Linked DNA regions of Homo sapiens: region 1 is linked to region 2. The links come from fine-mapping of genetic effects on gene expression. A gene starts in region 2. The other region holds a variant in brackets. All regions are shown on one strand. Distances are from middle to middle.

What was found. PIP is the estimated chance that this variant, and not a neighbour inherited with it, causes the effect.
Region 1: its variant is fine-mapped to the expression of CD177 in whole blood (TOPMed, PIP 0.92).

The regions. Positions count from the first base shown.
Region 1 is chr19:43,315,836-43,318,747 of GRCh38, forward strand. No RefSeq gene overlaps it. Among named protein-coding and RNA genes, the nearest start is that of LINC03078, 14 kb to the right of the region's middle. The variant A/G (reference allele first, on the strand shown) is at 1,508.
Region 2 is chr19:43,351,938-43,354,849 of GRCh38, forward strand. CD177 (CD177 molecule) reads left to right here and starts at 1,749. Exons shown (of 9, transcript NM_020406.4): 1 at 1,749-1,829; 2 at 1,916-2,056; 3 at 2,270-2,455. The coding sequence starts at 1,778.

The DNA of each region.
Region 1 (2,912 bases), 36 kb before region 2:
ATTCTTTAGGAGTGCAAGGAAAAGGAAGATTCTGAATGTCCCTTTTACATTGTTCTATCTCTTTTTGGAGCCCTCTTTTTGAGGAAGGACATTTAGATGGGCAGCAGAGATGATCAAGCCACTGAGGCGGTAATTCCTCGGGAACAGACGCCTCCAAGTCCAGAGTGATCCCTGGAGCGGGTGGGGGGGACGAGACTTCCGCCTGAGGAGGAGGGGAGGCGGGACTTCTGCCGGAGGAGGAGTGGGAGGCGGGAGTTCCATCTGAGGAGGAGAAGGCGGCAGCCATACGGCAGGCAGCAGCAGCGCCGTGGGATTCAGAAACGGGAAGATAATTTAAAGGATCCCACTAACTGCTCTGGGCCTTTGTTTCTGTCTGTTACCGTCTTTAAGTCATTTAAGGGGTAAAGAAGGGCAGGCCCTTGCTGCTAGCATAAGGCATAATCCATTTTTTCTGGGGACATGGGGCTTTGGTTGTTAACATACATTATTAAAAGTTGACAGACCCAATCCTCATCTGAACCAAATTTTGGCCAGAAAATGGCAGGTTTTAAGGTTGGCTCTTGGGTCCAGAGGAAACAGCAATATTTAATCATCTGTTGTTTTCTCTTATATTTAGTCCGCTCATCCTCTTTCCAATATTATAGCATGAATCCTAAGGGACTATCAAAGGAAATTTGATCACTGTCCCCTCCCTTGTTGCCTGGTCTATTTCCTGTCCCAATCCTACTAGAAGCATTTCCCATGTTGAATCCCAGATAGGCCCAATCCCTTGTGCTAGGGATGTTTTGCCTCTTCCTTTCCCAGGAAGGCTGAATCCCCCAGATACCGGGGATGTCTCGTCTGTCCTGTCCTCAAGGCTTAATCTCTCACACCAGAGGTGTTTCACCGATTCTCTTTCCCTGCGAGGTTAACCTTCCTCCGTTTCCCTTTTGGAGGTTCCTTACACTCTTCCCGTTTATGTCCACGCACTCTGTCCAGCAACAAGTTGGTAATCGTGCACACACACTCAGCCTCCCAAAAGCTGACCACCAAGGAAGTACTTTGCTGCCCTCTTGCGGCTTTTCCTACCTTGGCCCATGCACGGCGTTGCCTGGTTACTGTGGGGAGTCCCGCAAGCCTGTCTCTTTCCCCGCGTTGCTGAGAATTCAAGTATATTCCTCTCACCGGGTAGGTCCCGGCTCTCCTCCTGGGGCTGCCGCAACGGGCGGCAGGGCGCCTCCCCACAAGACAGGGCCAAAGACTGTCCCAGAGGGGAATGTTAATCTCGCTGGGGCCTTCAAATTGTTGGTAACGGGTGCTCGGTGTCATAAAGATCAGCACTGAGGCACAGCATCTCTCAGCAAGGCTAGTTTACTTTCTGCAGAAAAAGTGCCGCTCGCCAGCAGTCTTGCCATGAATGCACACACGAACAAAGGAGACAAGGTCATTTATAACCTGATGCATCCACCCTACTGCTGTGTGCGGCTTCCAATGGCTGGAACAGGACCTCACAATTTGTACTTGACTC[A/G]AACTACTACAAGTCAAATACAGCAAAAATCCAAAAACCCGAATTTAAAAGTGAACAAAAGACTAAAATACTTCCCAAAGGAAGACACACACATTGCCAGTGAGGACATGCGAGGATTCTCAACATCACTAATACTTACGGATATGCAAATCAAAACCACAGTAATACACCACCTCACACACATTAAAATGGCTTTAATAAAAACAACAACAACATGAAACCACAAGTGTTTTCAAGTAGGTGGAAAAATTAGGGCTCTAGTGCATTGCTGCTGGTGATGGGAAATGTTATAGATGCTGTGGAAAGTGGTATGGCAGTTTCTCAATAAATTAAAGAATTACTACTTGATCCAGCAATTCTACTTCTGGATTCTAGGTTGTGAATGCGTTGATTATCTTTAGTGAACTATAGAAAGTTTTCTTTATCTGGTGAAAATACACTGTAACATAATAACTTAGTAGATAACATGAGCCCTCTTGCATGGGAGAGCTTTTATACAACCAGAACCAGAAAATATGCATTGAAAATAACAATTGAATGAAATCTCATTATAAAATGTTTAAATGGACCAGCAGGTGACCAAGTGTACCTGAAGCTTTGATTGTTTTCCCAGGAATATGGGGCCAAACATTGGTTATAAATTCTTTTAACAATTTATAAGTCACCACACCAATATATTCCATTTGAATATTTTTATCTTTTCCATGATGAGTCATGGAATGCAGAACTTTTAATAATAAAAGCTTTAAGGACTTAGGAAGGACAAGGTGGCCATCCTGGTTCTCCATGAGTCCATGCTTAATTAATATTAGACTCATATCCTCTTGAATCATAGTTTTTCTTCAAATTATGTGCATAGCACTGATAACTGATGGGTTATCATAGGTAATTTGACTTAGACCATGACGTTCATTCAAATTGTATATCTAAGTAATTTTAATGTCAGCTGATGTAGCATGAGTGCTGATTGGTTAGGTAGGAGATGAAATCATGGGAAGTTGAAGCTGTCCTTTTTTGCTGAGTCAGTTCCTGAGTAGAGGTCACAAGATCAAATGACCCATTTTATCGATCTGGGTGGGGCCAGCTCATCCATCCATCAAGTGCAGGGTCTGCCAAATAGCTCAGACAGATCTCAGGAGCAGTTTAGAGAGGGTCAGAATCTTGTAGCCTCCAGCTGCATGACTCTTAAACCGTAATTTCTAATCTTGTGGCTAATTTGTTAGTCCCACAAAGGCAGTCTTGTCCCCAGGCAAGAAGGAGGTTCGTTTTGGGAAAGGGCTGTTATCGTCTTTGTTTTAAACTGTAAACTAAATTCCTATTAAAGTTAGTTCAGCCTATGCCCAGGACCGAACAAGGACAGCTTGGAGGTTAGAAGCAAGACGGTGTTCATTAGGTTAGGTTAGAT
Region 2 (2,912 bases):
GTGAAACCCTGTCTCTATTGAAAATACAAAAATTAACCAGACATGGTGGTGTGCACCTGTAGTCCCAGTTACTCGGGAGGCTGAGGTGGGAGAGTTGCTTGAGTCCAGGAGATGGAGGCTGTAGTGACCTGCAGTGAGCTACAACTGCACCACTGTACTCCAGCATAGGTGAGAGCAAGACTCTGTTTCTAAAAAAAAAAAAAAATTACTGGGCATGTACTGTATGCCATGTAGGTGGTGGAGACATAGCAGGAGATCAGACAAACACTTCCCTGTCTGTGTGGCAAATATTAAACTTGCAATAAACTTGCAAAGACAAATAAAGATAAAATTTATAGAGATGTCAAAAATAAACATATAATTGCAAGTCACATTCATTTCTCTTTCTCTGCTATTCCTGCTCTCGCCTTCCCTCTTCTGCTTCTCCTCTCTCCGTCACAGACACCCACAACGTCCCTCTGCAGTCACTGACAGATACCCCAGGTTCCTTCCTGTCTTCCTCCCCGCCACCCCAGTGTGTTACAGCTGATTTGTACAGCCCTGGACAAGCCCATGGTTAAATAGCTAGGGATTTCATCAGCCTGGTTGGCAAACTGTAGGTAGCTTAAAATCAGACATGCTATGAGTATTTACACCAGAGAAATAGGCCAACACTACGAGGCAGGATTTGTGGGTATTGTTTTTCAGAAAACTTGGTTTTTCAGCACAACACTGCTCTCCCATCGGCTTCCAGCAAATAAATGTTGCATTTTTCAGATATATCCTAATTCTTTCATAGATATTCAGTCTCTACTCCACCTCTGGCCAAGCCTTTCCTGGTGGTAGGAAACTGGGGACTTGAGTCCTATGTTGTACTGTGAGGGTAGAGAATAGAAGAGAAAGCATGAGAGAAAAGCATGAAAAGAAGAATCAAAAGAAAGCAATATAAGAAGGAAAGAGAAAGAACAGAGAAGTGGGAAGACAGTGGAGGGTAGAAACTAGGACCGGAAGACATGGGGACAAGCTGATGCCCACTGCACAACGTCCTCACAGGTAGTTGGGCCATTTCCCCATCTGGGGTACAGAGGTGGCCAGGGAGCCCATGAGAAATGAGGAAACTGCCTTCCCAAACTACTGGAGAAAGAGGGTGGGGGTGGTGATCCACATAGCTGGGCTCAGGAGGAAAGAGGGCTGGGAGTCTGGACCGGGGGAACCTCGGGTCAAGATGCCACAGTTTCTAACTATGGAGGGCCTGGGGGCCTGGACTCCTGGGTCTGAGGGAGGAGGGCCTGGGGGTCTGGACTCCTGGGTCGGAGGGAGGAGGGCCTCGGGGCCTGGACTCCTGGGTCTGAGAGAGGGAGGCCTGGGGCCTGGACTCCTGGGTCTGAGGGAGGAGGGGCTGGGGGGCTGGACTCCTGGGTCTGAGGGAGGAGGCACTGGGGGCCTGGACTCCTGGGTCTGAGGGAGGAGGGACTGGGGGCCTGGACTCCTGGGTCTGAGGGCGGAGGGGCTGGGGGTCTGGACTCCTGGGTCTGAAGGAGGAGGGGCTGAGGGGCTGGGGGTCCTGGACCCTCCATCTGAGGGAGGAGGGGCTGGATGCCTGGACCCGAAGGTCTGAGGAAGAAAGGGGGTCCCTGATAGGCCACTGCGGCCATTGAGACTTGGGGTGGGGCCCAAGCCTCCATTTTGCAAGGCCCTCCCCTCCCCACCCTTTTCTGGGCTGGCTGCTTAAGGGCTGGTATAAAGGACTTGTTTCCTGCTGAAAAAGCAGAAAGAGATTACCAGCCACAGACGGGTCATGAGCGCGGTATTACTGCTGGCCCTCCTGGGGTTCATCCTCCCACTGCCAGGTGAGTGATGAGCCCAGCCTGGAGGAGATTCCCTGGAGGCCGGGCAAGGGAACCCTGCTGAGATGGATTTGCTCTTGCCACTCCAGGAGTGCAGGCGCTGCTCTGCCAGTTTGGGACAGTTCAGCATGTGTGGAAGGTGTCCGACCTGCCCCGGCAATGGACCCCTAAGAACACCAGCTGCGACAGCGGCTTGGGGTGCCAGGACACGTTGATGCTCATTGAGAGCGGTGAGAAGGCCCTGGCGTGCAGAGACCCCGCCCTGTCCCCTCAGTCCCTTGATCCCTGTGCAGGGACCCGGGAGCCACCCCTCCGGGGGATCGACTCCTAGGGTCCCGGTGATCCCCTTTCCAGCCTCTCAGCCTACGCCGTGTAGCAGCGTCTCCCTCCAGGACCCTGGAGGCCTGACCTCCATCCTCGCTTGCCTCCCTCTTTCGGTCCAGGACCCCAAGTGAGCCTGGTGCTCTCCAAGGGCTGCACGGAGGCCAAGGACCAGGAGCCCCGCGTCACTGAGCACCGGATGGGCCCCGGCCTCTCCCTGATCTCCTACACCTTCGTGTGCCGCCAGGAGGACTTCTGCAACAACCTCGTTAACTCCCTCCCGCTTTGGGCCCCACAGCCCCCAGCAGGTGCCTGCGGGAGGGTCGGGAGGAGAGGGAGGGGCTGCTAGAAGGGGATCCGCTGAGCACAGAGGGGCTGTTACGGAGTCCCTCCCACCCTCGCTCGCTATCCCGACCCTCGCTGGCTCCATCCCTCCCCTGACTGCTCCCTGACCATCGCCCCGCCCCGCTCCCTTTCCATCCCTCCCCACTCACTCCCGATCCCTCCCACCGACCTGCCACCCGGGAATCCCCGCACCCCTCCTCTTCTAAGAGCAAACAGGACGGATTTCTGATATGAAATCACCATTAACTGGGTTATCCTGCATTCTTTTTTTATTCTGTTGCGTTTGGTTCAAGAAGTTCTCCTGCAGGGTTTTTGCTATTTCCTCTTCCTAAGGGAGACTGAACTGTAACTTTCCACTTTCCTTGTCTGGTGTTATAAAGAGTCTAGGGAGATATTTTGCGCTTCTTTTATTGGAACAGC